Regions from separate parts of the Homo sapiens genome. Here region 1 is linked to region 2. Evidence: fine-mapped expression QTL. A gene starts in region 2. The other region holds a variant in brackets. All regions are shown on one strand. Distances are between the middles of the regions.

The links. PIP is the estimated chance that this variant, and not a neighbour inherited with it, causes the effect. A credible set is the group of variants that fine-mapping cannot tell apart.
Region 1: its variant is the best candidate, but not a certain one, in a credible set for the expression of ARHGEF10 in aorta (GTEx, PIP 0.58).

What each region holds. Positions count from the first base shown.
Region 1 is chr8:2,566,125-2,571,504 of GRCh38, reverse strand. The region is part of intron 5 of LINC03021 (long intergenic non-protein coding RNA 3021); the gene reads left to right. Among named protein-coding and RNA genes, the nearest start is that of LINC03021, 160 kb to the left of the region's middle. The variant A/G (reference allele first, on the strand shown) is at 2,814.
Region 2 is chr8:1,821,273-1,826,652 of GRCh38, reverse strand. It overlaps ARHGEF10 (Rho guanine nucleotide exchange factor 10), which reads right to left and starts at 2,727. Exons shown (of 29, transcript NM_014629.4): 1 at 2,540-2,727.

The DNA of each region.
Region 1 (5,380 bases), 740 kb before region 2:
TTTTTTGTATTTTTAGTAGAGATGGGGTTTCAATGTGTTGGCCAGGCTGGTCTTGAACTCCCGAAGTGATTCACCTGCCTCAGCCTTCCAAAATGCTGGGATTACCGGCATGAACCACCTTGCCCAGGCCACTTATGTAGCTTTTAGCTGTGATTTCTTGTCTTGTACAAGACAATATACAAATTATTATCACCTTTGTTCTACTATAATCTAGACTTTATCATATAAAGTTGAGTTTTAAAGGCCCAAAAAAGTATTTGTAGAAAATTAATACTATTTATTATTCGTGAAAAGTCATGATTTCTTTTCAGATCAAATTATCTGTCAAAAACCTTATCAAATAGAAAACAACTCATAAATAAAATGTATTTCTCATCAAGTCATTTGAAGTGTATACCAGGCTGGGTATGGTGGCTCATGCTTGTGATCCCAGCACTGTGTGAGGCCAAGGCGGGAGTATCACTTGAGCTCAGAAGTTCGAGCCCAGCCTAGGCAACAAAGTGAGACCCCACCTCTACAAATAACAACAAAAAAAATAGTTGGGCATGGTGGTATGTGCCCATAGTCCCAGCTACTTGAGAGGCGGAGGTGGGAGAATCACTTGAGCGTGGGATGTGGAGGCTACAGTGATCAAGTCACTATACTCCAGCCTAGACAACAGAGCAAGACTGTCAATAAATAAATAAATAAAGTATGAATTCAATTTGCCTCTTAATTTCCTCCCTCCTTCCCTCCCTCTTTCCATTCTTTCTTTCTTTCTTTTCTTTCCTTCTTCCTTTCTTTTTCTTTCTTTCTTTCTTTCTTTCTTTCTTTCTTTTCTTTTCTTTTTCTCTCTTTCTCTCTCTCTTTCTCTTTCTTTCTTTTTCTCTCTCTTTCTTTCTCTTTCCTTTTTTTTCTGGGTGGTCTCATTCTGTCACCCAGACTGGAGTGCAGTGGTGTCATCATGGCTCACTCCAGCCTCAACCTCCCTGGGGCTCAGGTGATCTTCCCACCTCACCTCAGATCCTTGAGTAGCTGAGACTACAAGCACTCACCACCACACCCAGCTAATTTCTATAGTTTTTTGTAGAGACTGGATTTCACCATGTTGCCCAGGCTTGTCTTGAACTCAAATTCCTGGGCTCAAGTCATCTCTGTTAGTTTTCTTAATCATATTGATTTGTTTGTTGAGAACTTAACTTCCCTTGTCTTTTCCTGAATTCTTATTTGGCACTTTCATGTGGGTGAGGTTGACATAGTACTTTTCTCTCCCTGCTTGGTTAGCTTATATTAAAACAGAAACAGTGCTATGAGCAGAGGACCATAACAGAGCAGCTGTGACCAGCAGTTCTTTATTTTGTTTCTGGCAAACAGACGTGTTTCTTCAGGTGCAACCATTATGGGGTAGCTAGAGCATATTTTGTGAGGAAATAGAAGTTTAATTAATAAGAATTAAAACTCTGAATTACTTTATTAATTGAAAGTGCATCATTTGTTTACTTGACTTGGGAATTCCATTTTCATTTAATTCAGTATCTTAAATGCTGGAAGTTCGATGTGAGTGAACGCATCAACTATTGCATTAGCAGGTCAGTTTTACAACAAACTGAATGCTATCAATTTAAAGAAGCTTTAAATATTTTGGAATAAAATGTCAGTGAAGTTTCTAACAGAAAAACCAAACCTCAGTATTTAGATGTAGCAAGCTTGCCATCTACTGATCAGTAGGATTTGTTTAATGTAAAAGGAAATTTTGAATATGAATGTGGCTGCATCTGAAATAGTGATATTAATATTTTAAAGCAAAACGGCTTAACAAGTAGCTTCCTGGTATAAAGCCCTAGGCTGAGCCTTGGGGAAGATACAAGGAGGGTATGAAGCTGCAGTAGGCTTCAAAATAATTAGTTTGGTAGGGCATGTAAGATGCATGCACAAGTTTGTTAAGGAAACATACAAGGTGTCTTGTATACAAAAGGTGGGACAAACAGGCCTGGGACATGTTCTCCACCATCTTCGCGCCCCTCGGCAGCAGCCTGGCACGCCCGCAGCCTTTGCTCTCTGTCTCTCCTGACAAACCCACATGGCCTCCCCAAAGCCCACATTCTAGAAGCATTTGTCTTCAGGTGCTATTTCAGATAACTGTTTATTATTAGTATTTTGGAAGAAGTGCAAACAAGGTACTATGGTAGGATAGTTCTCATGTCAAAAAAGAGGTGCAAGCAAAACACTAAGGTTTGTCACAGCATAACAGCACTCGTTGGCTCCATGATCAACTCCAGGTGCATTGAGCTGTAAATCAAAAGCGGAGCCCATGGCGGGTCCCTGCTGCAGGTGGTCCCTGCAAATTGCTGATGTAAATGAAGTAACATGATCTAGATGTGACTCCTACCCCTGTAGTCTAAGCAGTAAAAGTTCAGATAAATGAAAATAGTATGGCTTCTATCAAACTCTAACGCATTCCATAATGAAAACAAATAGTGCATTGTTTATTCATTTAATAACTCTTCCCCATATATCATAATAAAGAGCATCATAACTAACTGCCAGACATCAGGACAGATATGACTGGCCCATTTTCTACGTGCAAAAATTGAATCTGTAAAAATTAAAGTGAATGATCAAGGTCACGAGAAGCCATAACCCTCCTTGTGTCTTCCAGTCAAGCCAACGCTTTTGCAGACAGCTTTTTGCATGGTTGCACGCAGCTCCATATGCCATAGACAACCATGGTGTACCACGTGTGTAATAATATGCTGTGTACAGTGCGATCTATTTAACAACTTTGAAAAACTACAGGGAAAATGTCTACGAAGTTCATCATAGGATAAGTGACT[A/G]TTTGAAAATTAATTCAAAAAGTTTGTTTTCCCAAAGTAAAATCTAAAGTTCTTTCCTGTATGCAGAAACTATATAGGAATCCCAACCCCTTAGGGAAGTAGAAAGCATTTTATTTTACAATAAAGTTCTAAATTAGCAAGTGCCAGTTTAAGAAACAAAAAGGTGAGTTTTTTTTCCTTTGTGAGGAACTACATTTAATTTGCACGTCTAATTGATGATGATTCTATAACTATTTTACCTTTTTGCAAGATTATTTATAAGAAGAGAGCATATGATTGGAAAAAAAACATATTGGATCTAAGATGTAGAAAACTTTTCAAATACTATCTGTATAAAATGTCTATTATTGGTATCTTTCATTGGTTTTTTCCCCCATTTTTTCTTCTCTTGTCCATTTAACTGGTTTTATTTTGTTTTTATTTTATTTATTTCTTTTTTGAGGCAAAGTCTCTCTCTGTCACCCAGGCTGCAGTGCAGTGGCATGATCATGGCTCAGGGCAACCTCAACCTCCCAGGCTCAAGAGATCCTCCTTTTTCAGCTTCCAAGTAGCTGGAAGTACAGGCACATGCCACTATACTTGGCTAATTTTTTAAAAATTGTTTTGTAGAGATGAAATGCTACATATCAAGCTGTAACAAGCTGGTCCCGAACTCCTGAGCTCAAGTGACCCTCCTACCTCCCAAAGTGCCTGGATTACAGACGTATGCCACTGTGCTCAGTCCATTGAATTGTTTTTTTTTTTAAATATTGAACTGTTTTTTTAAACCTTTACTCTCAATTTAGGCTAAAAGAAGCCCTATAGAAAGCACTCAATCATTTCTGCAAAGGGGTTTGAGGGTATAAACACACAGTGGGAATAAAAAGTGTGTGTCTATGTGGGCGAAGCGTACTACTGATGCCTCGGTTGGGAGTGTAGCCACGTGATGTTTTATGTAGTCAGCCTTATTCTCAGATGAGGTACCAGGTTTCACTTTTTTAGGTATGTGTACCAGATTCTGGAGTCAGAATGCCTTGTTTAGAGGCTGCGATGGAAGAATCACCAGAGCCCTGGAGGTCAAGGCTGCAGTGAGCCAAGACTGCACCACTACACTCCAGTCTGGGTGACAGAGTGAGAACTTGTCTCAAAAAAGAAAACAAAAAAAAAAAAACCCTAGTTGTAACATAAACTAAATATGTGACCTTAAACAATGTATTCAAACTCTGTGTGCCTCAGTGCTCTCACCTGTGAAATGAGAATAACGCACCTGCCCCACATGGTTGGTGAAAGGGTTGGTTGTAAACACAGGGAGGTACCAAGAACATGTTCAAGACACAAATTAAGGGGCTTACTGTTACTGTGGTCATTATGATTATTACTATTTTGGTGGTTCATTTCCATTTTCTTCTCTTCTTTTGAGATTTTAATTTCATAGGATTAAAATAATTTGATTATCCTTATCATTAGTTTTGTAATGACCTGTTAAAATCTCAAACACGATGAAATATATTTCACATGATATGAGATACAGGAATCACTCAAGGAAGTAAAAAACCAAAAGAGATAGAAGTGATCAGGCTGAGGCTTCACCATGTGACCGGCAGGACTTTTTTCTAGTCTGCTCATGCTGCTATCACAGAATACCAGGCTACAGGGGATTTACAAACAGCAGATATTCATTTCTCACAGTTCTGGAATCTGGAAATCCAAGACCAAGTCACCCAGAGATAAATCTCCTGTGAGGACTGGCTTCCTGGTTCACAGATGGAGCCTTCCTTTTTCACAAGGGCCCCAATCCCCACTCATGAGGCCTCCACCCTGTTGACCTGATCACCTACCAAAGCTCCGCCTTCTAATACTATCACATTAGGGGTTTATAATTTCAACATATGAATCTGGGAGGAGGTGACACAGATATTCAGACCATAGCAGACACGTTTAGTGAATTCCCAAGAGGTGTCTACAAGAGAAAATGCAAAACTTGTATCACTTGGAAGCACCTTCCCAACATCAGCTTCTAAGCCATCAGCTTGTTTTCAGATTTTAAAAAAATGTGATAACTTTGAAACTAATGAGTTTGGACATTTGAGAACACTGGTTTGAAAAAGTGAGACACAAACCTGGCCCCGGCTCCACCAGCAGTGAGCTGCTATGGTCATTGGCAAGTCGATGAACTGCTCTGTGCTACAGCTTTCTTACATGAAATATTTAAGAATGAATTTGAAGGTGTGGATTTGTTGTTCCCAAATAAAGCCTACTAGTATTGATACATTTCATTTTAAAGAATTATTCATTATTCTAAAAAGAGTTTACAATTTGAAATGCTTCCATTTGCCTATAATGGTGAAGAAAATCATCAAAAATTTCATTTCTAAATTGTTGATTCTATGAATATTTTCTCTCCCCTGCTCTTTACTTCTGTGTATGTATGCAGGCAAATCCCACCAGCCAGCCAACATCCAATGAGAGACAACAGTGCCTTATTAATCCAGTGATGTGGACCTTTATTCTAAAGTCGGTAATGTTAGTTAGCTAGGCAGATGTGAGCAAGGCAGGAGGGCTCCCCAACCCCCACCAGAAATGCCAGG
Region 2 (5,380 bases):
AGTTTGCTCTAATTTATGCCAAACATCTTTGTTTTAAGCAGCACTTCCCCATACAACGCCTTCTAGCAACTTCGTAAGTGAGCACCCTCAAGTCCCGTGAGAAGTCTGGACTCACAGGGCCAGGGAAAAGCTTCCCCACCTCAACCCAGGTCTGTAACTCCACACCCTCCACACCACCCAACGCCTCTATCTACAACTCACACACGCGCACACACACACACACAAAGCGCACACACACACAGCACACACACAAACACACGCACACACAAACGCACACACATGCATACAAACACAAACACATACACAAAGACACACGCACACGTATGCACACACAAACTGCAGAGGAAAGGCAGCACACCAAAGCACCCAGAAGACAAATGTGGTTACATCTGGAAGTCAAGCATCAACTTTTAAAAACATAAAAAGCTATTCTGAATAACTTTTAACTTCACTTCACCCCCAACTGTCTACAACTAATGAATTACAAATAGCACCTTATACAAATGACTTTTCTTACTGCTGAGAAATCCTGGAGGTCTCATCTGTCTATAAAGAGTTATGCATCCGTAACTGCCGATGTTGGCTGCTAAAGCCAGCAAATAAATGCTGTGAGAGACAGACAGGGACAAAGTGTGTTTTTAAAAATACATGACGTGTAAACCTCAGTAATCATCTCTCTTTTCGAATAAAAATTATTTTCTATAAAGCAGGTGTTCAAAACATATTATTAATCAGCAACAGTGAAATTGTTCCTCCTTGCAGCATTCCACCCATATGGACATTAAGTCACTCCTGCACAGAATCTAGAATACTGACCAGTCCGTACTCAGGTTATGGTTAACCAGAGAAAAGAATTAAAACCCGTTACATCTTGAGTCAATGAGAATTTTTACTTGCAGCCAAAGTTAGTGACTGGAATCAATATCAGACAACAGCAAGTTCGTCTACTGCTGCCTGGGAACATGACCTACTGGCCACAGTCGGGAGGGGTACTCAGACCTCACCTTCAGTGCCCAGGGGCCCATGGAAGGGGAGTGGGGCTGGGACAGGTGGGCAGGGCGTCTGTGGACCTAGGGCAGTTTCCTCAGAATCTACCTTGGCTTCTTGGGCACCAGCGGGCTGTGGGGTGCAGGGGAACAGGTGGAGTACGGGGGGGACAGCTGGGGTGCGAGGGACAGCTGGGGTGCAGGGTAAACAGGTGAGGTGTAGGGGGACAGGTGAGGTGCAGAGGACAGGTGGGGATCAGGGGGACAGGTGGGGTGCAGGACAGTTGAGGTGCAGGGGACAGGTGGGGTTCAGGGAGAGAGGTGGGGTGCGAGGACAGGTGGGGTGCGGGGGAACAGGTGGGGTACGGGGAGACAGGTGGGGTGCGGGGGGACAGGTGGGGTGCAGGTGAACAGGTGGGGTGCGGGGGACAGGTGGGGTGCGGGGGGACAGGTGGGGTGCGGGGGGACAGGTGGGGTGCGGGGGGACAGGTGGAGTGCGGGGGGACAGGTGGGGTGCGGGGGGACAGGTGGGGTGCGGGGGGACAGGTGAGGTGCAGGGGGGACAGGTGGGGTGCGGGGGGACAGGTGGAGTGCGGGGGGACAGGTGGAGTGCGGGTGAACAGGTGGGGTGTGGGGGGACAGCTGGGGTGCAGAGTAAACAGGTGGGGTGTGGGGAGGACAGGTGGGGTGCGAGGGGACAGGTGGGGTGCGGGGAACTGGTGGAGTGCAGAGTTAACATGGGGTGCTGAGGGACAGGCGGGGTACACGGGGTGCGGGGAACTGGTGGGGTGTGGGGGGACAGCTGGGGTGCAGAGTAAACAGGTGGGGTGTGGGGAAGACAGGTGGGGTGCAGGGGGAACAGGTGGGGTGCGAGGGGACAGGTGGGGTGCAGAATAAACAGGTAGGGTGCGGGGGGACAGGCGGGGTGCGGGGGAATAGGTGGGGTGTGGGGGGGACAGCTGCGGCGCGGGGGACAGCTGGGGTGCAGGGTAAACAGGTGGGGTGCGGGGGGACAGCTGGGGTGCGGGGAACTGGTGGAGTGCAGAGTGAACAGGGGGTGCTGAGGGACAGGCGGGGTACACGGGGTGCGGGGAACTGGTGGGGTAGGGGGACAGGTAGGGTGCGGGGGAAAGACGCCGGCTTTCCTTACACCGGTCCTTCTCTGCATCCTGAGGCGGACCGCATTCTTCTCCTTTACCGGAAAATCTAAGTTACTGCACGACCCCCCAGGCGAAGCCAGCTCGCCCCTCGGGCTCCTTCCGCCGATCGGAGTTCGCTCCTGCCCCTGGGGCCAGGGGTCCCTGCTGCCAGTCCCTGCTCCCCCCGCCCAGGCCCGCGCCGTTATCCTGAGGGGCCGGGGGCGCCGCGGAAGGGGGAGCTGCTCGGGGGGAGGGGGTCTCAGCCCCTTCCCTGAAACATCTGCGCAGGGGGTCGGGGGCGCAGCCACCTCCGGGTGGGACCCAGCGATTTCGGGGGAGCCGGGCAGAAGTGCAACTCTCAAAGGAAACCAGAAGCCCGCGAGGGGACCCACGGTCCGCGGGGCCCGCACTCACCTCGGCGGCCAGGACGCGACCCGCAGTCCCCTGCTGTTCCCCGCCGTCCCCCGCTGTTCCCCGCCGTCCCCCGCTGTTCCCCGCCGTCCCCCGCCGTTCCCCGCCGTCCCCCGCGTCCCCCGCGTCCCCCGCGACCCCGTCCGTCCCGGATCGCGCGCCCGCCGGCTACAGGGATGCGCCCAGCCCCTCCCGCCCGGACGGCCTGCTCCACCCACCATGCTGTCATTGGCGGGCCCAGACCGTTCCGGGCGCCCATTGGCCGCAGAGCCTGCCGGTTTCTCGGCAGCGCCCTGCCCTCGCGCCCGCGCATTCCTTCGAGGCCACGTGGCCGCCCGCGCCCCCTCCCGCTGCCCAACGCCCGGCCCAGGCTGCGCACGCGTGGGAGGGGGCGCGCGGCAGAGGCTCCCGCCCCCGGATCATCTCCTGCCCCGCGGACCCCGGGCCGCGCTCACTTCGGGAGGGGTCGCTGGGCAGACCGAGTGCCCTCCCCGCCCCCAACATCTGGATCCTCCCCGCAGAGCCTGCTCCCGGCTCAGAGCTGCGCCCCTTGGGGAGGGTGCGCCGGGCAGACCCTAACCCTCTCCCAGAGCACCGCCCTTTCTGCGGACCCCCACGGGCTGAGCTCACCTGAGGGAGGGGGCGTCGGGCAGACGCTCCCCCCCCCAGAACATCGCCCCTCCCTGCGGACACCCGGGGTGCGCCCAGCCGAGGAGGGGGCGTCGGGACCCCACCCGACCCGCCCTTGAGCCCCCGTCCCTCCGTCCGCAGCTGGCCCTGCCCACAGGGCGTTCCGGGTCTTCCGCGCCAGCTGCCCTGGACCAGCCAAGGCTTGGGCGTTTGGAAATGCGATGACTTCAGCCACGTTTCCGAGGCAGTTTTTGAAGCTTGCTTCTTGCCAGGAAGCGCTCGTTTTTCCCGGGACCTTTCCAGGGAATGGCCCCTTCTGAGTTATTGGAATTGTTTACTTTGAGCATTTATTTGTCTTATACTTTTAAAAAGGAAACAGATTATCGTTATAATTACTATTAAAGAAAAAAAAAAACGAGAAACAAAGACATTTTTAACCAAAATAACTAAAGGATGTTATCTTTTACCTGGTCAGCACATTTAACAAGTGTGTTCGCAGATGCTAGATTTATTTCTATGCCTTCTCCTACCCAAATCTCCGAATCATAGAAGTAATTTTAAGTCAGTGTTTTAGAACTGTCAGACTTCTTAGAGATTTCTAGCCCCTTTCACTTGTTTTATAGAAGAAATACAAACAGCTATTTGGGATGCTAAGTATCACGAAATTAATCTAAACATTAACTGCCCTTAAGGCTTGTGTGCTCTGGAATAAGTTATTTCCCTGAAAATTTTGGACTATGTAAAAATCATAGCCAACATAGAAAGACTACAATGGCTGGAAAAAATAATCGTAGGTAAGGTGATATTTTTTCAATGTTTATTATTCACACTTGCTAATTTTATGAAATCAGACTGAGTTGTTTTTATGAATCAATTGAAAAAGGTATTTGCTCTCAGCGACCTTAAGATTAGAAAACTTATTTCAGGTTTCTATTCCTAGGGTTCTCTGGGTACCTTATTCAGAGATCTTCTGCACAGATCAATGGTCAGATCAATGGTCTTGATCAACAGAAGTAAGAAGGTCAACTAAATTAGTTCTTGTTTACCTAAATACGATGAGAAAATCCTGATACTTGTAGTGTTTTCTAAAAAGGTAGAGATAAGAGGAAATAGTCCTGTGTATGGAATAAACAACTCATTTTCTCAATGGATGAAATTGAGCCCCTAAACTCAGGGCCGCCAGGGACACCACTGAGTAGGGCCACAGAGCAATGCCTTCCAGGCAGGTTGGGCAGAAAATCCCCTGATTTGGAGCTCCAATAGATCCTGTCTGTCTGCTTTATTCAGGCGTTCCTCACAGATACATCCCTATTTTCGTAAGCCCGGATATGGAAGAGTTGGGATTTTCCATTGTGATTCCCTCTTTGACCCATGGGATATTTAGAAAAGTTAGGTTCACCTTTCAAATATATGGGGACTTTCTGGTTTTCTTTTTATTGTAACTAAAGTTTAATTCCACCGGGCCTTAAAACATCAGCTGTTTTATTTTTGTCGTTTAAGATTTTCAAACACTTGCTTCATGGCCCAACATTGTCTATTTTGGTAAATGTTCTATGAGCACTTGCTGAGAACATGCTTTCACTGACATAAAGTTCTACAGATGTCAATTAGGTCATATTTGTTACTGATTTTTTTATCTACTTGTACTTTTTATCTACTTGTACTTTTTATCTACTTGTACTGATAAGGGTGTATGAAAATCTTTGACTCTCCGTAGTCTATTCAGCATTGTCCTGCAGCATCTAACAAGTGTTGTAGGTCATAAAAACAAAAAGTGTAAGGATTGAGGGAGGAAAAACTGATTATTTACAGTCAATATGATTATATATGTTAAAAAACAAAATTATCTACAAATAAACTATTAGGATTAAAATAGAATTTAGGAATTTCAGATGGATCATAGACTTAAGTGTAAAAATTATAAAGTTGCTAGGATAAAATATAAGAAAAGATCTTACGGATCTTCAGGTAAGACAGAAAATGGACCGACCATTTAAAAATGATTAAATGGCTTATCAAAATTTAATATTTCTACTCATCTCATGACATCATTAAGAAAATGAAAAGGCAAGCCACAGACTGGGAGAACACAGGGGCAATGCATATATCCCACAAATGGCTTGTCTTAATCCACGTTGTGCTGCTGTAACAGAATACCTGGGAATGGGTGATTTACAATGAAAAGAAATTTATTTCTCACAGTTCTGGAGGCTG